Linked DNA regions of Homo sapiens: regions 1, 2 and 4 are each linked to region 3. Evidence: fine-mapped expression QTL. A gene starts in region 3. Each other region holds a variant in brackets. All regions are shown on one strand. Distances are between the middles of the regions. Region 1 overlaps RPSA (ribosomal protein SA). Region 2 overlaps SCN11A (sodium voltage-gated channel alpha subunit 11). Region 3 holds the start of GORASP1 (golgi reassembly stacking protein 1). Region 4 overlaps SLC22A13 (solute carrier family 22 member 13).

The links. PIP is the estimated chance that this variant, and not a neighbour inherited with it, causes the effect.
Region 1: its variant is the best candidate, but not a certain one, in a credible set for the expression of GORASP1 in neutrophils (BLUEPRINT, PIP 0.72).
Region 2: its variant is the best candidate, but not a certain one, in a credible set for the expression of GORASP1 in tibial nerve (GTEx, PIP 0.54).
Region 4: its variant is the best candidate, but not a certain one, in a credible set for the expression of GORASP1 in liver (GTEx, PIP 0.88).

Annotation. Positions count from the first base shown.
Region 1 is chr3:39,412,223-39,417,869 of GRCh38, forward strand. It overlaps RPSA (ribosomal protein SA), which reads left to right. Exons shown (of 7, transcript NM_002295.6): 7 at 52-320. The coding sequence ends at 146. Among named protein-coding and RNA genes, the nearest start is that of SNORA62, 4.0 kb to the left of the region's middle. The variant A/G (reference allele first, on the strand shown) is at 2,012.
Region 2 is chr3:38,981,781-38,987,486 of GRCh38, forward strand. The region is part of intron 2 of SCN11A (sodium voltage-gated channel alpha subunit 11); the gene reads right to left. Among named protein-coding and RNA genes, the nearest start is that of SCN11A, 67 kb to the right of the region's middle. The variant C/T (reference allele first, on the strand shown) is at 2,272.
Region 3 is chr3:39,105,175-39,110,658 of GRCh38, forward strand. It overlaps GORASP1 (golgi reassembly stacking protein 1), which reads right to left and starts at 2,453. Exons shown (of 9, transcript NM_031899.4): 1 at 2,305-2,453. The coding sequence starts at 2,367. TTC21A (tetratricopeptide repeat domain 21A) reads left to right here and starts at 2,506. Exons shown (of 29, transcript NM_001366900.1): 1 at 2,506-2,690; 2 at 3,911-4,040; 3 at 4,855-4,965. The coding sequence starts at 2,664. RefSeq lists a silencer at 2,083-2,402.
Region 4 is chr3:38,276,188-38,281,893 of GRCh38, forward strand. It overlaps SLC22A13 (solute carrier family 22 member 13), which reads left to right. Exons shown (of 10, transcript NM_004256.4): 8 at 100-208; 9 at 725-940; 10 at 1,185-2,570. The coding sequence ends at 1,278. It also overlaps a transcript of SLC22A14 not described here. Among named protein-coding and RNA genes, the nearest start is that of SLC22A14, 3.3 kb to the right of the region's middle. The variant G/A (reference allele first, on the strand shown) is at 2,231.

The DNA of each region.
Region 1 (5,647 bases), 310 kb after region 3:
ATACTACATTGAGGACAGAGCTGATGGCTTTTTTTGGTATTCTCTTAACAGAAGACTGGAGCGCTCAGCCTGCCACGGAAGACTGGTCTGCAGCTCCCACTGCTCAGGCCACTGAATGGGTAGGAGCAACCACTGACTGGTCTTAAGCTGTTCTTGCATAGGCTCTTAAGCAGCATGGAAAAATGGTTGATGGAAAATAAACATCAGTTTCTAAAAGTTGTCTTCATTTAGTTTGCTTTTTACTCCAGATCAGAATACCTGGGATTGCATATCAAAGCATAATAATAAATACATGTCTCGACATGAGTTGTACTTCTAAAGCCCACTGTAGATAGTGTATATTGCTTTTCACTTCAGAATTTCCCTGAGCTTCCTTCCTGTGTGGAGAACATGTGTGCTGTGAAAATAGATGTAAGTGGTTACACATACTTAGTTGGTAACCTCAGGAATACTTTTCCGAGGCCCTGATGATCTTGCTTTTATTACCATTTGCGTAGGTAAGTTCTATAGAGCTTAGGTTTTTATTTTTGAGAGTCTTCCTGTCACTTAGGTTAACTATTCCTGGAAGCCCTGGAGAGGCGATGGTCCTTCCCCACATTGAGAGACATTAATTGCCCCTCTTGTCAGCTTGCCTACAGGTTCTGGGAGAGGAGAGGTATGTATGTATTTAAAAATGTGATGTTCTCCATATTTGTCTTTGCCGGGGAGGGGGTTGGGGAGACAGTCTTTCCCTGTTGCCCAGGCTGGAGTACAGTGGCGTGATCTCAGTTCACTGCAACCTCTGCCTCCTGGGTTCAAGCGATTCTTGTGCCTCAGGCTCCTTCGTAGCTGGGATTTCAGGTGTGCACTGCCACACCTAGCTAATTTTTGTATTTGTAGTAGAGATGGTTCTGCCAGGCTGGTCTCCAACTCCTGGCCTCATGTGACCCGCCCCAAAATGCTGGGATTACAGGCCTGAGCCTGACCATATTTGTTTTTTATGTATTAATGCTGGTGGCTTCATCCTAAACGGATTTCAAGATTTTCATTGCCTATTAAAAAAATACTCGTGGCTGTCATGTTGGCTCACCCATGATCCCAGCACTTTGGGAGGCAGAGGCAAAGCGATTGCTTGAGCTCAGGAGTTCAGGACCAGCCTGGGCAATGTGGTAAAACCCCATCTCTCTCCAAAAGATACAAAAAATTGGCAGGGTGTGATGGCATACTCCTGTAGTACCTCAGCTACACAGGAGACTGAGGTGGGAGAATCACCTGAGGCCAGGAGTTGGAGGCTGCAGTGAGCTGTGATTGAGCCCCTGTATACTCTAGCCTGGGTGACGAAGTGAGGCCCTGTCTCAAAAAGATTATAGAGACATTTCCATAGATTGGATTGAATGCAGATTTTGAGATGGCCTGAACTGATTTACATGGATTCATACATTCTCTTGGAAAATTTACAAAATACATGTACATGTGACCACATTCCTAGGGCTCCTTCCGGTGGTGCTGAGGCAATGGGAACACTGCAGCCTCAAGCATTGTCTTCATGGGAAGCCTGCTTATGGCTGTAAGCGAGGCTGGGAAAATCTGCCCTATAATGTCTCCAAGTTGAATGGCATTCAGTGAGATTTATGGATCCTGAAGTTGCAAGTGGTTAGCAACACTGGTAGAGATTGCTGGAATCAGGATGGTGGGAAGCAGGGACAGTTTACCAGAAGGCTACTGGTCAACAGGGGAGTTGGAGAAGCATTGCGAGGTGGTGTGAGCCTGGAGTAAGGTATACTAAGCTCATTTATGAGCGGGTTCTGGGTGGAGTCTGTTCAGCGAACAGAGAACCTTGGCATTTCTGGACACTTGAAGATACTGTGGAAAACATCCGTTGTGACTATCCAGCAACCTCCAGGATTACCCCATCTTACTGGGGTCCCATGCAAACCCAGCCTCTCCATAGACTTGTGTCCTAGTGCCAAGCACCTCCAATCAGGAGACCTTGGTAGCATTCTCAAAGCAGTTCCAGAAAGTCTCTTTTTCT[A/G]GATTCTGAGGTTAGGGAGGAGGTAGTCTCCCTTGGCAGGGTTCATTCATGTTCAGCTAAGTGGAAGCCAGCAAATACTAGAGGGGATTTCTCTCAGACCCACTCAGCTGGGGTTAGCCTTCCCTGACAGGCCTTAACCTTTTTATAACCTTGTATATCTGAAAATAGGATCCTCTCCCCAACTCCACTCCCCTGGCCCTGTACCATATCACCAACTGCTAGTGGATTCTGGCTCAGGTTTGGGATCACCATGCTCTCATGGGACCCAGCAGCTGCCCATGGCCACAGAGTCAGTGTCCCCAAGCTGTCACCATCTGGAATAGCCATCTTAAACTAGCCAGTTCAAACAGTTTTCTCTTGCCTGGTGGTGCCCACCTGATGTAGGGCAGCTCATAAGCACTGCTGAATCAGTGACAATCTGTGCCCCCTGGGTGTTCAGCAGCCTGCTACTAGTAACTTACCCCCAGTGGTGTTTGCAGAATTGAGTCTTCCTGACTCAATTCCTAGCATGAGGCCATTTTTAAGGTGAGGGAGAAGCCGTTGCCTCCTTCACTGCTAGGCACTGCTCTTGCTTTGGCCCTGTGAGCCGCCTCCCTTCTTGCCCTGGCACATCTCCATTTCCTTCTACACAGGAATTGCATTTCTCTCAGTAAGTTATTCAATTTCCTTGTTCAGCCTGATCTTACAAATGTAGCTTGCTCTAAATATTTTACTTGTTCACAACTTCAAGCTCTTCATACACTTTTGGGCAGTTTGTCTTCTATGCTTAATAGAAACTGAATCCCACACAGAACTCTAGTTTTCCTCTACTTTCCTAAGTAGCTTAGGGACTCCTTTCTTAGGACTGTGTGCAATAAACACATTTTTTCTAGTACATTCCTAGTATGAGGGCAAATCTGAGCATCCTCATTGGAATCAGCCTATCACAAAAGCTGGCACTTGGTAAATGCTAGTAAGTACTGAGTGAAAAGAAAAAGTTAAGAATAAATCTGAGGGCCAGGTGGCTCATGCCTGTAATCTCAGCACTTTGGGAGACCGAGGTGGGCGGGTCACCTGAGGACAGGAGTTTGAGACCAACCTGGCCAAAATGGAGAAACCCCATCTCTACTAAAAATACAAAAAATTAGCCAGGCCTGGTGGTGTGTGCCTGTAATCCCAGCTACTCAGGAAGCTGAGGCAGGAGAATCGCTTAAATCTGGGAGGTGGAGTTTGCAGTGAGCCGAGATCCTGCCATTGCACTCCAGCCTGGGCAACAGAGCAAAACTGTCTCAAAAAAATCAATCAATCAATAAATCGGAGGCTGAGTGCAGTAGCTCATGTTTGTAATCCCAGCACTTTGGGAGGCTGAGGTAAGAGGATCACTTGAGGCCTGGAGTTTAAGACCAGACTGGGCAACATAGCAAGACCCCATGTCTACAAAAAATTTTAAAAATTAGCTGGGTGTGGTGGTGTGCACCTGGTTCCCAGCTACTTGGGGGCCTGAGGCAGGAGGATCACTTGGGCCCAGGAGTTGGAGGCAGCAGTGAGTTGTGAGTGCCACCACACTCCAGCCTAGGCAACAGAGCAAAACTGACTCAAAAAAAAAAAAAAAAAAAGGATAAATCAAGAGACTTAATGTTAATATTCAAAAAAAGTGGGAGAGGTAAGTTTCATTTGGCAAACCTGAAGCTCCCAACAGGATTCAAGGTGCCCACTCTTGCTTGTTGTTCAGGAGCACATCAGCATGATTAACGGGTGGCCACATCACCTGCTCTCAACTTGGGTGTTTGATCAAGTTCCCTGCTTGGTCAAAGACAACAGCTTCACATAGTGTTTTGAGAATGCACTGCACTCCCTGAGGTCAGCTTGGGTGTGGTCTCCTGGTGTGCTAGTTGGTGTAGTTGGGACTGGGTCTGGTCTGCGCCATGGCCCAGCACCAAGGACACCTTTGCATAACCAGTTGTCCTGTGAAGGGACTGGCCCACTGTCACCATTGAGATGATGGGCTGCATAGTGAGGTGGATAGTGTGGGCTGCAGAATTGGACATACTGGGGTGATGACAGCCCTGCTTGGGCCACTCCTAGTGTGTGGTTCTGGGCAAGGGACTATGTCTCTAGCCCAAGTGGCCTCACCATCAAATGGGATGATTGTGGGCTGCTGTGATTCATTGAGATCATCCTGCACAGCAATTAGTCTGGGTTTGGCATGTAGTGAATACTGCTCGTATGCATTGCATTGTCTTTCCTTAGTACTTACTTTAAAAATAATTTTTATGTAAAATGGATCATACATGCAGATAGTTTAAGAGACATATCCATGCATTCTTAAAGAGTAAGAATCAAGTTAAAGCCTCTGCAACTGTGATGCAGGTTATGAAAGGGAAAAGTGCCGGGACCAGAGAAAGCATCTGTGTGTCCCTCCCTGCTCCTCTCAGGTCAGAGAGCTCCTGCTCCTGTGATAAACTGGTTGACTTTATTGTTTCCCCACTTACGTTTGTGCTTTTAATCATGAATTATTTAATTTTCCTGTTTTTGAGCTTCCCATAAATGGAATCTTAGCACGTCTTCTGTGTGATCTGCTTCTTTCCCTCAATATTGTCTCTGCTTTTTGTTTTCTTTTTTGAGACAGAGTCTCTGTTGCCCAGGCTGGAGTGCAGTGGTGTGATCATGGCTCTCTGCAGCCTTTACCTACTGGGCTCAAACGATCCTCCCACCTCAGTCTTTCAAGTAGCTGGGATTACAGGTGCGTGTCACCATGCTCAGCCAATTAAAAAATTTTTTTTTTGTAGAGAGGAGGGTTCACTATATTGCCCAGGCTGGTCTCAAACTCCTGAGCTCAAGTGACCTTTCTGTTTCAGCCTGGGACTATAGGCATGAGCCACTGTGGCCCACCATTTGGAACATTTTTGATAGATCCTTGTGCAAAGTTTTCCCCTGTCGGTTTTAAACTCTAGTTTCACCAGATAACGTCAAATGGTTTCGCAATCACATATAAAATCCTACAAAAACATAGCCATAACCTGTGGGCAGCAAGCCACCCAGGTGCCAAGGCAAGAGACCAAGGATGTGAGCTGTTCCAGTATAATAAAATATAAAATAAGAATAGTTATACCAGATATAGATCTTAGATATGATTATATATGAATATCATTAATCATTAGTTTGTAGCAATTACTCTTTATTCCAATATTATAATAATCCTCGCTCTATAATCATAACCTAGGAAAAACCAGGCCGTACAGAGATAGGAGCTGAGGGGACATAGTGAGACGTGACCAGAAGACAAGAGTGCGAGCCTTCTGTTATGCCCAGACAGGGCCACCAGAGGGCTCCTTGGTCTAGCGGTAACGCCAGCGTCTGGGAAGACTCCTGTTGCCAAGTGAACTGTAGTCTAGTGGTAGCCTCAGTGTCAAGGAAAAACACCCGCTACTTAGCAGACCGGGAAAGGGAGTCTCCCTTTCCCCAGGGGAGTTTAGAGAAGACTCTACTCCTCCACCTCTTGTGGAAGCAGGCCTGCCTGCAGTTATCCGGAGGCCTAACCGTCTCCCTGTGATGCTGTGGCTGTGCTTCAGTGGTCACGCTCCTAGTCTGCCTTCATGTTCCATCTTGTACACCTTGCTCTGCCTTTTAGTTAGCAGTAGCAAATTAGTGAAAGTA
Region 2 (5,706 bases), 120 kb before region 3:
GATCACCTGAGGTCAGGAGTTTGAGACCAGCCTGGCCAACATAGCAAAATCCTGTTCTATTAAAAATACAAAAATTAGCCGGGCATGGTGGCAGGCACCTGTAGTCCCAGCTACTCAGGAGACTGAGACATGAGAATCACTTGAACCCAGGAGGCAGAGGTTGCAGTGAGCCAAGATCCCAAGGTCATGCCACTGTGCTCCAGCCTGAGCAACAGAGTGAGACTCTGTCTCAAAAAAAAAAAACAAAACAAAAAGCAAAAAGAAAAAAACAAAAACAGACAAACAAAACCACAAGGGACAAGTGTGGCCCCATCCAGCCTCAGGTGTTCCAGTGAGCCGAATGAAGCTGACACGTAGTGCAAAAGGAGATGGCATTAACTTAGAACTGTGGGATTGAGCAAAAGATGAAAGTACCAACTTGGGCCAACCCTGGCCTGTTTGGAACTGGGAGTACTAAGGGGGAAATGACAGTCCCTGCTGCCTACTCTGTGGGACCACATCTGGACCACTACAGGATGCAGAATTCCTGGAACTTTTACTGGGTGTAAAGCGCATTTGTTTCCACAGAGCAAGAGGAAATTAGCTTCATTCTCAACAAAGTGCACAAGTCTTCCTGGCCCACTAAGGCATCCTTTTTTCTTAATGGTTTAATGGGCCCTGGGTAAACAGTGGGTGAGCCCCTGACTTAAATGGAAAGGTCTGAGATTATGTAATACAGCCCTGCCGAGCTAATAAGGCAGGGTGGGGAGCTGCTTCAGAGCTATTGCTTTTATACGAACAACCCAGTGGATTGTTTTACTGGAACAAGCTTTGACATAGGTTTCATTTACTAAGGGAGGAAAATTTCTCTGAAAGTAGGGAATCAGCAGACATAATATATGAAAGATACAGTGGTGAAGCAGCATATAGTTAGTTAAAATGTGTCATGCTACACAGTGACAATGGTGATGGCTCAAGGATGGGGTGGGGGTCAGGAAAGGAAAACCAGGAAGGAAGAACTGTGGACCCAGGGTCAGGATCCTGGGCTGTCATGTAACATCTTCCAATAAATGTGATCTTGGGGGAGACCATTTTGGGCCTTGGTTTCCACATCTGCGAAATGTTATTATAGCCATGAACACTTACTGAAAGCTTACCCCATATGCCAGACACATCTTCCAATCAACTTATGTGAGTTATCTCATTTAATTTTCACAACAATACAAAGTAGCGGGGAAAACTTCTGGCTTCTCTTGAAAACTCAGAAAATCTAACAATGTTGAGTATGAGTCCAAAATGTCAGCAAGAAGCCAGAGCTGAATAGGGAAGGCTGTTTTAGATGAGACCATTAGCCACAGACCTCACCACTCTTCTTACTGTGCTACTTATTTCCTTTATAGTACCTGAGTGGTTCCTGCTGCGTGTGGGTTTGTGGCCCCTGCATTAGATGGCCTTCATGATTCCTCTTCACCCCTGAGCTTTGATGTTTTTTGCTCCATGTCACCTTCACCAGAGTGGTCAGGCCATTCTTCAATATTCAGACCTAGGCAAAAGGTGCATGACTTTGAACTCCCCTAGTTAAGTTAAGGCTTCTAGAAAGAACAGGCTTTGGGAGCTGAGGAAGGGTGCTCACTGTGCCCTATAAAATAGAGTTTCAATAGACACTGGGTCCTCTGTGGCCTGACCTCCCCTGTGTCAGCAACTTGAGTCTCACTTGAATGGGGAAAGAAAGTAATAGAGAAATGAACAAGGAAATTCTGAAACCCTCAAGACAAACAAGGACCCTCCTATCATTAAGGTAAAGCCAAGTGTGACCCTAAGGCAAGTTACTTAACCTCTGCGTCTCAGTTTCCTCATCTATAAGTTAATGACAACCTCTACCCCATAAGGGAGCTTGAAAGAAAATCCAAAAAAGAAAGAATCTCTTTGAGTTGCTAATGACTCTTAAGTTTCTGGTTCTAGTCCTTTGACCATCATGACAGTCCTATGGTTTTACGAAAGAACTATCCATCTCTATTTAAAAAACAAAAAACACAAAGACCTTTTTTGCTTAAGCTAACTTGTGTTGGGTTTCATCCACCAGGAAGTTAGAGAGAGAAATTACTTAGAGATAAACTTACACATTACAAATCCTTCTGTTCTGTGTGCTTTTAAAAATGTTCAATTTCTAAATGGGCCTCTGGTGAAGATAATGATCACCTCATTGATTTGTTCCCAGGAGAACAGGGTAAAATGAAGTCCTGCTGATCACATTTCTAAATCTTTTTAGTCCCATTGCTTTGGGAAAGTTTC[C/T]ACACCAGTCATCCTTCTACAGCCTCCCTCTTTCCCACTGTTCCTTCTCTGCAACCACCAGGAAAGGAGGAATCCCAGAGCAGTCTTGCTCCATGACCATCAGGTCCTTTTCACTCATAATCCTCTTAGACCACATTCTCTAGGAATGTACTCATTCTTCAATGGGTGCCTCCACTGAGGAAGGTGCCCTATTCATCTGGAGACCAACATGTTCAGAGCTGCTAGTATCTGCCTCCTTCTGGCTCTTCAACATTGCATTCAATCTAAAGAGCTCCCCCTACCTTCCCATAATTGTTATTTTAGTTTAAATAAGAAAGAGCTGGTTTCTGTTGTTTGCAACCCAAGAACCCTAAATCCAATATGGCACCTTAGTGGTGAGGACAAGGGGGTAGATGGTAAAAGGGAGATATTGATATTGAATTGTCAAGGAAAGCCTTTCTGAGGAGGTGAAATTTGTGCTGAGCTTTTTTTTTTTTGAGACAAAGCCACACTCCTGTCCCCCAGGCTGGAGTGCAATGTCATGATCTTGGCTCACTACAACCTCTGCTTCTCAGGTTCAAACAATTCTCCAGCCTCAGCCTCCCAAGTAGCTGGGATTACAGGTACCTGCCACCATGCCCGGCTAATTTTTGTATTTTTAGTAGAGACGGGGTTTCACCATGTTGGCCAGGCTGGTCTCAAACTCCTGCCCTCAGGTGATCCGCCCACCTTGGCCTCCCAACGTGCTGGGATTACAGGCGTGAGCCACTGTGCCTGGCTGAAATTCGTGTTGAGCTTTCAATGAAGGCACGCGAAAGTCTGGGGGAGGGAACATTCCAAGAAAATAAGAGCAAATGCAAAGACCTTGACTCAGAAACACATTCAAGGGCAGTGAGGAGGCCAGTGTGACTAGAGTTGAGTGAATGAGCAAGCATAGTAGGAGATGAGGCAGAGATGTAGGCAGGGGCTGGATTATGTATGGTCACTAGGCTGCAGCAGACTATTTCAGTTTTGTGATACAATGAAAGCCACAGGAGGGCTTAAACAGAGGATGACATATTCGGATTTTTTAAAAAAATGTCTTTCTGGCTGGCTGTCTTTTTTTTTTTTTTTTTGAGACAGAGTCTTGCTCTGTTGCCCAGGCTGGAGTGCAGTGGCGCAGTCTCAGCTCACTGCAAGCTCTGCCTCCCGGGTTTATGCCATTCTCCTGCCTTAGCCTCCCGAGTAGCTGGGACTACAGGCACCCGCCACTACGCCCGGCTAATTTTTTTTTGTATTTTTAGTAGAGACGGGGTTTCACCGTGTTAGCCAGGATGGTCTCGATCTCCTGACCTCGTGATCCACCCATCTCGGCCTCCCAAAGTGCTGGGATTACAGGCGTGAGCCACCGCACCCGGCCTGCTGGCTGTCTTAAGAATCAACTGTTAGGGACAGGTGTAAAAATGAAAAGATCAGTGGGGACACTGTTGCAGGAGTGCAGGCTGGAGGTGACCATGGCTTGGGTGTGAGCTATGGCAGTGAAGATGGAGAAAGGCAGATAGATTTGTGAAACCATTTCAAGAAAAAGCTGTCTTACATAATTTGCTGATGTGGATTGTGAGGGGAAGAGTATAATCAAGGCTGAGTCTTGGATTTTGGACTGAACAACAGCATAAATGCATTTGCCATTTGCTGGGATGGTGAAAACTAGAAGAGACATGTTGTTTAAAGTATTAGTCATCTACTGCTGTGTAAGAAATGACCTCAAAACTTAGTGGCTTAAAATAGCCATAAGTGTTTACCATCTCACAGTTTCTATGGGTCATGAATTCCAGAATGGATTAGCTGGGTTCCTCCAGCTCATGATCTCTCCTGAGGTTGCAGTCAAGATGTTAGCTAGTTGGTCTTGGTTGGGACTAAAGGGTCTGCTTTGCAGGTGGCTCACTCATGAGGCAAGGTTGTACTGGCCATTGGTGGGAAACTGCCATTTCTCCCTACCGGGACCTTTCCACAGTCTGTTTGAGTGTCCTATACAAGTGATGTAAGAAAGTAAGGCAAAAGCCACAATGTCTAGCTTTGGAAGTCACACTTTTTGATTTGCACAATATCCTGTTAGTTATACAGATCAGCTGCCTTCATTGTGGGAGGAGACTACACATGGGCATGAATACTAGGAGCTGAGAATCACTAGAGGCCATTTCAATGGACCGTCACCACACCATCCACACTGCTGCCAGAAGGAAGTGCCGACAGAGCCAGCAGATGCGTCAGGGAGGCCAGTCTAATAAAGAGGAACTGAAGAATATGCAGGAATAGGAGTGGAATGATCAGTTTCAGAGAGATACAAATGGATCAAAGGGAATGATTCCAGACACATGGAATGGAGACTTCAGTGGAGCTGGGTGTTCCCCATTGAAGTGTGAGCTGAGCTGGACAGACCCTGCTTCTGCCTTACATACTGAGTGGCCCACCAGGCTTTATGAACGGTGATGCAGTGAGGTGACCACAAGAAAGAAGAGGGAACCCCGAAACTGAAGATGTAAAAAGAAATCAATCCAGGCTGCTAATCAGGTTTAAGATGCAAGTATCTCTCCCTCCCTCCTTCTCTCTCTCTCTCTGTGTGTGTGTGTTGTTGTTGTTGTTGTTGTATTGAGTGGGAGTAGAGTTGGGGAATGAGCCAGAGATCAACCATGTTGGAGAGGAACAAACAAAGGACAAGGAGGCATTGAAATATGGGGCAGATCCATACAATACTGATACAACCAAGTGGAAGTCCTGCAATTAACCCTGCGATTTTTGCAGCCTGGCCATGCAGAGCACAGCTTTGTGTTTGAGGTTTGTACTGAGTCTCTTGGAGCAAGGATCTATAGAGCCACATGTCATTTTCCAGCTGTGAGACCACTTTCCCCTTGACAGGTCAAGGTGGAATTCAGTCCCCTGCATTTTTGTACCCCTACCCGTTTCTTTCCGCACCTGGACAACTACAGCAAGACCAGTAGAGACACATCCCATTGAGAAACACAAGGCTCTGCCTACCACACACACACAAGTGTTTAATGTGAAACCACCCCAAACACAGTACATAGTGACTAATGCGCAGTAAAAGACAGAAGCTGAGTATCTTTGGAAGGGAGGATGGGAAAATTAACATCACAGGCATTCATCCATCTCTCCTCTTTCCTGTCCTGTCCTGTCCTCTTTTCATCGCTCCTTTCTCCCCTATTCCCTCCTCTTTCTTCTTCCTCCCTTTCTCTCCCTCCCAGTGCCTTTCTCTCTCTCTCTCTCTCTCTCTCTCACACACACACACACACACACACACACACACACACACACCTGTCCTGTCCTTTACAGGATTCACTCATCTTGCAAGGCTGGCTAATGGCACAAGCATGTCTGGGGCCCATATTTCTAGCTTACAGCTTCTTCCACAGGGACAGGGCTGTCTCTCTCTCAGTGCCTGAACCTTCTTAGGGACTC
Region 3 (5,484 bases):
TCATCACTACTCACTATGGCTCCGCAGCTGAAATAATCTATGCTGCTGCCCACTGTACGGCTCCCCCTGCAGAAACCACTGCCTGCCATCCAGCTCCCTCAGGGGCTCCCATCACAGCCTGCCCCAAGGCCCTATAGTGCTGCTTTTCCTCATGCTCCCACCCTATTTTTCCCAATCAGGGAACCTAATGGAACTCACAGTGATCACAACTTACACTTACTAAGGGCTGGTTGGCTGAGTGCCAGGGCATGGCACCACCTCACCTGCTTTATGTGTCATTTAACCTTTTTAATAACCTCAAATGACAAATGAGACCAAGTACTCAATAATTCAGTAATTTGACCCCAGGAAATCCAACCCAGAGCCCTCCCCCTAACCACTGCCCTCTCCTAACAGCTGTTTCCTGGTGAATCTGCCACTACTCTAAGCTCGCTGAGGGCAGCGACTTCTCCAAAGTATTGGGCACGCAGCGAGGTGCCAATATTTCTAGAATGCAGCACAGCTGTTCTTCAGTGTTGTTAAAGGTAAGTAGGTCATGTCACTCCTCCATTTAAAACCTCCTGATGGTTTTACATCTCAGAATAAAATCTTAAATCTTCAGGACAACAGGCAAGGTCCTACACGGTCTGCTCTGGTCTCCTCCTCACACTGGCCACACCATCCAAGCACACCAGCCTCACCTGGCATTTCCTCAAACACACAAGCACAACCTACCTCGGGGCCTCTGCACAAGCTGGTCCTTCTGCCTGGAATACTACTATTCCCCTAAATATCTGTATTGTCCACTCTTTACTTCCTTCAGAAGCATCTGTTCGAATGTGACTTGAGAAGAGGCCCTTCCTGACCACTCTATCAAAAATAGCACCCACTCACCATTCTGTATCCCCTTAACCTGCTTTATTTTTATCACTGGTAATTACCACCTACCATGTATTTTTTCATTTCCCTTCTTTCCCTACCATCATCCAAATGTCAGCTCCAGAACAGGGACCATGTTTGTTCTGTTCACTGCTTTATCTCTAGAGCCTTAGAATTCTGCCTGCCAGAGTAGGAGCTCAAAACTTTGTTTTTGTGACTGACAACCTCTGATCCCTGGTCCCTCTCCAATTTGTCCCTCTCCATCAGGCAGGCCCCTCCCGTCTTCGAAGCTCCCATCATCGCCCCACCCCTCCTCTTGCCAATATCCTGAGTTCCTTTGCCTTTAATCAAACCTGTTGGAAGACGCTCCTGGCTGGATGCATTCCACTGTCCACGCTTGCTGTTTGGTGTCTCACCATAAGAAAGCCCATTCCCAAGCACAAATCCTGTCAACTCTGGGTTCTCCAAGCCAGCCTGGTTTTCACGTTAAGAAACTTTTAGCCCTCTCATGTGGTTAGCTGGCAACAGACCCTACCTTCAAAACACACAAACCGACAAGCTTGCCTGTCTCCACTCATCTCTGCATCCAGCTGCCTTTCACTAGGGAAAGGGGGGGTGCAGGGACGCCTCTTCCCCGCAGCGCTCCGGGGTCAGAGACCCCCAGCCCCTCTCACCTACATTATAGCCCTTCCCTCACCGCAGGCACAAATCTCCATCCGGCTGCGGGACCCTCTCCTCACCCTCACAGCACACTCCGTTCTAGGAACCCCACTCCGTCTCCACTCTCCGGAAGCCTGCTCGCCCAGACCTCCATGTAGCGGCATCTAAAGGCTGGGACCCTCCCCAGCTGCAAACGCTCTCCTCGAGGATTCTGCAGCACTCTCCCGGCCCTCCCGCTCCCCACTATCCCGTGGCTGGTTTGCACCGGTCCTCTACCCTCGGAAGCCCTTACGACCCTACGACTGGCAGGACGCGCGCCGACGGGCTCCCCCGCAGCTGCGTCCACTCGGTTAACCCCGGCCCCCGGGACTGTCCTCGGCGTGGCTGACTCTCTTCCCAGGCCCAGCACGGAGAGCGGCCCGCGGCAGGCGAGCGTAAATGTGTGCTAAGTGCACGAGTGCGTCCCGACTGGTAGTGGTGCATTCTTCACCCGGGAGGAGCGCCATTCCCGGCGGCCGGACCAGGAAAACGCTCCGCTTCCGGCACTGCTGGCACTTGGGGCGGGCGCTGGGCCCGACCGCGGCCGCGGACTAGCCAGGGTCCGGGAGTCCCGCGAGGCCGCCTCTCCCAGGAGGCTCCCACCGGGCAGGGGGCACCTCCCGCCACCCAGGCGGAAACACTCGGGCCGGGACCCCGCCGCAGTCGCCAGCCAGCCGGCGACCGGACGCCCGGGCGCGGGGTTGCGGGCGCCTCGCCAAGGTCACCGGCGCCGCGGCGGCAACTCACCCCGTGGAGGTGGAAGCCCTCGGCGCCGCCTGCGGGCTGCTCAGCGCTGACGCCCAGGCCCATGGCAGCGGCTCCGCTCGGCACCCAGGTCCAGTCCCGCTGCGCCTACCCGGACCGACCCGACGCCAGTAGCACCGACTCGCTCTCTCGGCGCTCGATTCCTGCGCCTTGTGACGTGAGGCGTTTTGTTCCTCCCACTCCAGACACTGGACGCTCCTAGCAACCGGCTAGCAGCTCGGTTTCCAAGGACTGTAACGCCTTCAACCGCCCGCCGCGATAGAGTGCCCACGACCCTGCCTCGGGAATCCCGCTCTGCACCGCCCCACCAGACCCGGACTCGGAGCCGCGAGCGGCCCGAGATGAGCAGCAATGACTCCTCCCTTATGGTGCGTGGCCCGGGCGCTGTCCGAGGGCTCCCTCGTGACTCCCCGCCCCTGACCCAGAGACCGTCTGCCCTGCTACTCTCCTGCCACCCTTCGCTGTCCTCAGTTATATCAGGCGGTCCTGCCTTTTCTTGCCCCACTCCCCCTGGCAAGGGCGTCTTCTCCGGTGGCTTCTGCGCACCCTGAGCCCCAAATTAGCATCCCCGTTTCTTGAGCTACCCCAAACCAGCTCATCCAATCACTATCATTATCCCTTCTTGTCATCATCCCTTCTTCCACCCAGCTCACTCTCGCCTGCGCCTCCCACCCCAGTTGATGGCTTCACCATTTAATCTCCTAGCCTTAACTCATACCTCTTCCCTATACTCATCTTCTAATCCTGTCTACAAGAAATGCCAGCTCCTTGATGTCTCCTGGGTTTTCTTTTTATCTTTTTATCTTCTAGCCCAGAACCAGCACCATCTCTCCCCCCTGAGAGCCTGCAACAGCCTCCCTCCCATCTGGTTTCTCTGCTGTGGCTCTTTTCAGCATCAGTAGTCCCTGCTGCCACCACGGCACACACCCCCCACATGCAAAAGCAGCCAGAGTGGTTGTTGCAAAAATGTACATCTGAAAACATCCCTCGCCTTAAAACCATTCTGCTTTCTGTTACCCTTAGGATGGTGTCTGGGCTCTTTCATATGGCCCATGAGGATGTTTACAGTCCAACCACATCTGCTCCCAACCTAGCACCCACAAACCTTAGAGGAAGTGAAACTTAACTTTAAAATCTCAGCCCCTTTGTCAAGCTGTAGTTTCCATGGGCTTAAGCTTCCTTAGCTGTGAAAGATACTGAGAGGACCATGCACAGGATAGTGGATATGAAGCCCACAATAACTTGTAACTACAATTCGTATAATTTTTCTTATTATTTGTCCTCATTTTTCCCCCCTTATTCCCTTCCTAAGACAAAGCCTTGGTTGAATTCCCCATCATAGTTGAACCAGAATCTGTTGGTAATCCCCCAAACAAACACCTCCAAACTCTTTCCTGGGAAAACTGCATGGAGCTGCTCCCAGGGCTGTTAGAGGACAGGATGAGGCCTGAATGTTTCCTCTTTCTCTTCCCTTTGCAGAACTGAGGAGGAGCAGGGGATAGGGAAGGGAGCAGGTCTCATCCCATCTGGGACAGAACAGAGACAGAGAAGGGACTGGGCTATTGCAGTTATGTCTTCCTTCATACAGGCTGGGATCATTTACTATAGCCAGGAAAAGTACTTCCACCATGTGCAGCAGGCTGCAGCTGTGGGCCTGGAAAAATTCAGCAATGACCCTGTGTTGAAGTTCTTTAAAGCCTATGGAGTCCTCAAAGAAGGTAAGGACTTGGCAGTGTTGGTCTTGTGACCCCAGGCACTAGCTGGGCCCTAACACTCTGGCTCCACCTGGATGCCTTCTTGTATCCTAGTTATGGTCCCATAAAAACAGTTTCACACTCAGCGGCTGGATTCCCACGGGAATCCACAGAGGCCTACGTAATCCATATCTAGTTGACTTTTGAGACCTCAGAGCGCTGACTATCCCTGCTCTGCACCTCGGGTTCCCTCTCTGTAAAATGAGTGGTTGGAGAGATAGCTGCATGATTCTTGAAGTAATTCCAGGCCTGGAAGCTGAGAACTGGTAATGCAGGCAAAGGAGGGGGAAGAGGTAGGTGTGAGGACAGGTGGGTATGGTACAGGTACAGGGAGAGGAGTGAGACCCATGCAGGTGCAGATGGGCTGACATTCAGAAGGTGGTCCTAGGCTGAGGACTGGCAGAATAGCCCATGGCCAAATGTCTGAGGACATGGAGGGATAAATGTAATCAGTGGCTCTTGAGCAGTAGCTGAGAATGCCCTGCCTGAGGTCCTTCTTCAGAACTGACGCAGCTAATAATTGCAGCCTCACACATATCCCCACAAGTACTCACAGGGTGAACCTTTCAAGTCCAAGATTTCCAGCCCCTAACAGCCTGGACCATGTTACCAGCAACTCTTTCAAAGAGCCCCAATCTTCAGGGAACTTGGGTCACTGGGGACCTTTCAGACCAGTTAGTCCAGCAGGTAGTAGTGCTGAGCTGTTGGGTCAGCTACAGAGTCTCATGTCCTCTAGTCCTGGAGCTTGAGAGTATAACTATGTGGACTGTCTTTGCAGAGCACATCCAGGATGCCATCAGTGACCTGGAAAGCATCAGGCATCACCCAGACGTGTCCCTGTGCTCCACCATGGCCCTCATTTATGCTCACAAAAGATGTGAAATCATTGGTGAGTGCCACCATGCTCAACCAGGCCTGACCCACCAGGGGAAGGAAAGCCCTGCCCCAGAGATAACACAGCCCCTCAAGGGCTGCCAAAGGAGGTATGTGCCCTGGTGGCTGTGCAGATGCTGTTAACCAGTGAGAAGTGGCTGCTGCTCCTCTCCCCCTGGAGGCCTGGGAGAAGACTCCATGCCTGGGCCCAACTGAGTGGAAGCAGGCAGAGCCCATGACAGTGGGAGGGGCCCATGCTCCAGATCCCAAGAGTTGGGGAAACACCCTTCTTCTTTGCCAAGATCTTGTCAGAAAAACCAAGCCAATATATATAATTCTACCCCTAATCTCCACATTTCTAGAGTCAGGGAGAGGGTCCAAGAGAGACTACAGACTACTATTTCCCTACTCACAATAAGTTGTGGGCCTGAGGCTAAGGATTTTGGTTTGGCCTGCCTGCTCAGCACACTGCTGGGCACAGAGAAGAGAAGGTAATCTCAGACAGCACACGTGAGTCCACACCAGGGCAGCCCCT
Region 4 (5,706 bases), 830 kb before region 3:
AAAGGCTTCCCGGGGGTTTGGGTACAGAAGGGGTGGGGAGTTCCAGTGGATGGGACCGGCGTCAGGGCCCAGGTGATGGGGCTGTCTACCCTCTGCCAGATCTGCCCGTGGTGGTCACCATGCTGGCTGTGGTGGGGAAGATGGCCACAGCTGCTGCCTTTACCATCTCCTATGTGTACTCTGCCGAGCTTTTCCCCACCATCCTCCGGTAAGAGCTGCAGTGTGACTCCTGCTCCTCTGCTACTGAGATGCTGATTTGGCTGTCCCTCCTCGGCCCTCACCCCATTCCACAAATAGCTGACAGGGCTGGCTCTGGGGCAGCAGTGCTGGGCAGGGTCCAGGACAACTAGAAATCTAGCCCAAGCCCTCAAGTTGTCCCCAGAATGGTGGAGGACAGACAGGCAAGTAGGCCATGCCCTGGCGGTCAGGACAGGAATATGGGACACATCTAAGAATGAATGGCCACAGAGAAGGAGCACTTGGGGTGGAAGAGTGGTAAGGATGTGCAGCCTCTGACCTGAGACTTGACAGGCGAGCAGGGGTGTAGCAGGCAGGGAGCAGGGTTGGAGGCAGGAGCAGAGAGCAGGAACGCTGGCTGGGCTGGGTGAGGCTGGAGACCCTGCAGACCTTTGAGGTCTGGACTCTCCCGAGGAAATATACTAGGGTGAAGCTGAGGCCCAGAGTTGGGCCCAGGTCTACTTAGCTTGCCCTGGTCTTCCCCCAGGCAGACAGGCATGGGGCTGGTGGGCATCTTCTCACGGATCGGGGGCATCCTCACACCACTTGTGATCCTGCTGGGAGAGTACCACGCTGCCCTCCCCATGCTCATCTACGGCAGCCTCCCCATCGTGGCCGGCCTGCTGTGCACCCTGCTGCCAGAGACGCATGGCCAGGGCCTGAAAGACACCCTCCAGGACCTGGAGCTGGGGCCTCACCCACGGTGAGCTGCTTGCTTGCACTGAAACCACGACTTGGGTCTCACATTGGCCACGCACTCTATATGCCCAGGCCTCCACCTCATCACTCGTCCACTGTTGCCTAGAGGCTAATATGGGGTCCTCCAGAACCACAGACATCTGGCTGGCTTTAGTTCAGATTCCCCTTACTTTGAGGAGGGAGGTGGTGAGGACACTGTCATGGGACCAATTCCTGGGCAGCCAATGACAGCCTTCTGCTCCCTCTAGGTCCCCCAAATCAGTGCCCTCAGAGAAGGAAACAGAGGCCAAGGGAAGAACTTCCAGCCCGGGAGTGGCCTTTGTGAGCAGCACATACTTCTGATTGAGGTCTCTAAGAGCTGGACCATCAGCAGCAGGGAGCTGCCTAAACACCTCCTTGGATATGGCCAGGACCCACAGGGACACAGGGCAAGACCAGCCTTGCTTATGGAGGCAGGACACCACAATCTGGCCCATGGCTGTCACCTCCTGCCGAGTCCAATCCCAGACTGGGAACCACCATCTGAGACAGGACCTCCCGGCCTCCTTCACCTTTCTCATCTCCAGAGCCCTGCCCCCAATACTCTGTCTGGGTTAGGATCTTGGGTATGTCTTGGAATTAACTTGTCCTCTAACAATCTTCATGGGGTATGGCTCTCTTGATCTCCTCAATCTGGAGTCCCCTGCCCTCAAAACACAGTGATGTTCAGAACAGAACACAAGGTAAGCCCTTTCCAATTTGTGGGAACAGGAGGGGAGAGGAAACAAATGTGAAGTTGTGGACTCTACCCAGGCAGGTGGATGAAAATGCTGTGGATAAAAGGAAGGTTATGATTCCTTCTAGCGGATGGACCAGATTCCTCTGGCTAACGTATGGCCCCATAGGTCACTGGGTCATACAGAGAGAAGATTCAGTTCAGCCTAAATCAAAACTTCCACCTTGTGTTCACTTCAAAGATGGCCCAACCCCCGCCCTACACTCAGCTCATGCCTAACCTATGTGTGGCTCAGGGACCAGCTTGGGGAAGGAAAGGAGGTTTGTTCTGCTCCCCGCCTCACCCCGCCTCCTCCTGCTCATGCTCAGCTGCTTCTGGACCTTCCAGGGCCCATGCAGGGTGAGGGAAAGGGTAGAGGTCTTTTCACCGAGCTGCTGCTGGTTGCAGTTCTTTCTGGTGCACATTGGCTAATGCCAGTTGGTGTGTTTTGTCAGGCTTCTGAAAGCTGCCTTTTCCACGGGCCATCTTCTTGGGCTTCTCAGAGATCTTCTCAGGCCTTGGTATTGTTCCTTAGAATGA[G/A]CAATATGCTCCCAATGCACTCCCAGCTCCTCTTGGGACCCTTCTCCAGCCCCACCCAGCATTGCTCCTACAACCTGTCCTACAGCTGGCAGCCCCTGACCCAACCAAGATGGCCTTCTTGGCTGGGCGTGGTGGTTCATGCCTGTAATCCCAGCACTTTGGGAGGCTGAGGCGGGCGGATTACCTGAGGTCAGGAATTTGAGACCAGCCTGGCTGGCATGGCAAAACCCTGTCTCTACTAAAAATACAAAAATTAGCCCTATATGGTGGTGCATGCCTGTAATCCCAGCTACTTGGGAGGCTGAGGCAGGAGAATCGCTTGAACCTGGGAGGCGGAGTTTGCAGTGAGCCAAGATCGCACCACTGCACTTCAACCTGGGCAACAGAAAGAGACTCTATCTCAAAAAAAAAAAAAAAAAAAAAAGATGGCCTTCTTAGATGGGCGCCCATAAAGAGACCTCAAGCCGGACTGCCTTCCTCAGCACCTCCTTAGCCTGCAAGAACACCATATATCATTGTGTCACCAAATGGTAGATAGAAAAAGAGCTTGCCTGGCCACTGCCCCTGCCTTGCCCCAGCTAACCTCCCACTAGGGAGAAGGTTTCAGTCTCTCTTCTCACAGGCACCCCAGCTTGCTCACCTTCTCCTGCATGGCTGGTTCGGGGTTGGGCGTAGATGCTGGACCAGTTTCCTGTAAACCCAGCATGGAAGTGTTCAGCACCTGTCTTCCAAACACATGGATATTCCTCACTCACGATTCTCAGCTTTGAAGTGCTAGACAAAAGCTCTATTTAGCTTCCTACTGTGTGCCCATTCATGGCATCCTCTTGGGGAATACTAGCAAGTCTTTCTGGGCACAATGTGTCTCTCAGGCTGAAACTGCCAAGGGGTGCGGAAAACCAGATAGAAGTGGGGAAAGGGCCATTTCCCAGCTAAAGGCAGTTTCCTCCTCTAAGATATGGACACTTGCTCCCTTTAAGACGGAATGATTGTCATTCCCAGGAAGAGACCTGAATGGCCAAGACTGGCTAATTTTTGTATTTTTGGTAGAGATGGGGTTTTGCCAAGTTGGCCAGGCTGGTCTCAAACTCCTGAACTCGTGATCCGCCCACCTCGGCCTCCCAAAGTATTGGGATTACAGGCATGAGCCACCATGCCTGGTCCCTGGAGACTTTTTCTTTCCTTTTTGGGGGGATTATGGTTGGTTGGGGAGAAAGATTTTTTTTTTTTTCTGTGTGTATTTAAAAGTGTCCTGTGGTTTGCTCTGATGAATGGGTAAGTGTCCTTTAGCAGTCACTGATGGGAGGTTGGCTGCTGAGGCCTCTGGGACTCTGAAGGAGAAGATATGCAGCTTCACTGGACCCTGGTTGTGTATCTCCTTGATTTTGCTCCTCAAAGGTTACGGCAATGGTGACTATCAGTCCTAAACATTTAGTCCAGGTGTGTGAAAGCGAAACTGTGCCCCAAACAGTTAAAGACACCAATGACTAACAGAAATTCTTGAGTTTGCAGGATGGTAGGTAAGCAAAGAAACAACTTGCTGAGATGCTGAAAGTCCCTCCACTTGTAAGACAACAAAGCTGGCTAAAATAGGTTGGAACCAATGTGGCCAACTAGAGTCTGTGCAGTACCTGCTTGCTGACATCACAGCCTGAATTTCCACTGCGTGTTTCATACTCACTCCCCCCGTACCTGCCCATGTGATCTATGAGGTGTCATGAAGAGAACTGCGCATGCTGGAGGACTTTCCAGGCCTCCTCTTTCCTTCCACTAATCACCTGCTAATCTCAGAATCCCGACACCTTTTCTAATAAAAACACTGCCTTAGCACCAGCCCAGGGAGACAGATTCAAGCTGGACTCCTGTCTCCGTGTCGGCCGGCCTATAATTACAAGCTTTTCTTTTCTCAAAAACCCGGTGTCATCATATTGGCTTCTAGCACATTGAACAGCAAGCCCCTTTCTGCCTAGAAACAATCTGACCCTCATATTTACTAGTTTTCTCAACCTGTAACCAAGGGAAACAAAAATGACCTCCTAAATTTTTAACAAAGGCAATCAACATTTGTAGCTGGTATGAATATTTGTTCTGTAAACTCATATCTGCAGGCAACAGAATGTTTCTTTAGCCTATGAGCCTCCATCTTGCTGAGCTGATTGGAAATTCATCTCAGCTGTTATTGGGGCTCTTCTCAACCCAGAGAGTTCTGGGATCTTTTTTTTTTTTTTTGAAAAGGAGTCTCAGTTTGTCACCCAGGCTGGAGTGCAGTGGTGCAATTCTCTGCTCACCGCAACTTCTGCCTCCTGGGTTCAAGCGATTCTCTTGCCTCAGCTTCCCGAGTAACTGGGATTACAGGTGTGCGCCACTGCGCCAGGCTAATTTTTGTATTTTTAGTAGAGACAGGGTTTTGCCATGTTGGCCAGGCTGGTCTTGAACTCCTGACCTCAGGTGATCCGTCTGCCTCAGCCTCCCAAAGTGCTGGGATTACAGGCGTGAGCCACCATGCCCAGCCGAGTTCTGGGATCTTATGTAACCAAAACAAACCAAAACAAAGGGGTGCTCCCACCCTGCTCTTCAGTCTCACTGATGGCTTCTGGGTGCTCACTGTGCTGTCTGCTTGGTCCCTTTGACCCCCAGAGTGCTGCTGCTCAAGAGTGGGGAACTCTAGGGGGGATGAGGGGCCTAGGACCAACCACTGAGGTGACCTGCAGACACCCCGAGGGAGGTCTGGTGAAAGAGGAAGGATCTGATGCCCCAGATACCAATAAGATTGCAGTGCCCTGCCCCCAAACAAGTGAAGATTGAGCCATAGGAAACTGCAAAAGAGCTGTAAGTAGGTTTCCCTGTGATCAATACTTCATTTTTTTTCAAATATATGAAATTCTTTTAATTTTTTTTTGTGTCTTAAGTGTCTGTGTTAGTCCATTTTCTGTTGCTTATAACAGACTGCTTGAAACTGAGTTATTTATAAAGAAAAGAAATTTATTTCTTACAGTTCTGGAGGCTGGGAAGTCCAAGGTTTAGGGAATACATCTGGTAAGGGCCTTCTTGCTGTTGGGAACTCTGCAGTCTCCCAAGGGGGCACAGGTGAGGGAACCGAGCAAGCTAGCTTGTCTTTCTTCCTCTTGTTATAAAGTCACCAGTCCCATTCTCATAACTCATTAACCCATTAATCTACTAATCCATGATTGGTGATTCATGGATTAACAGATTACACTCATGACCCAATTACATCTTAAAGGCCCCATCACGCTACCACACTGGAGATGAAGTTTCAACATGAGTTTTGGAGAGGACAAATATTAAGCCATAGCAATGCTCTAATTTTGTTGAGGTCCTAAGTACATGCTGTACTGGTACAAGGATGGTCTGCCTTGTACTAGGCCCTGTGCTGGTTTTCCTGTCCTGCCACTTTGGCCTCCCTTCCCCCAAGCATGAAGCTTGAAGCCCTGTTCCTGCAATCTGGCAGAGGAGGC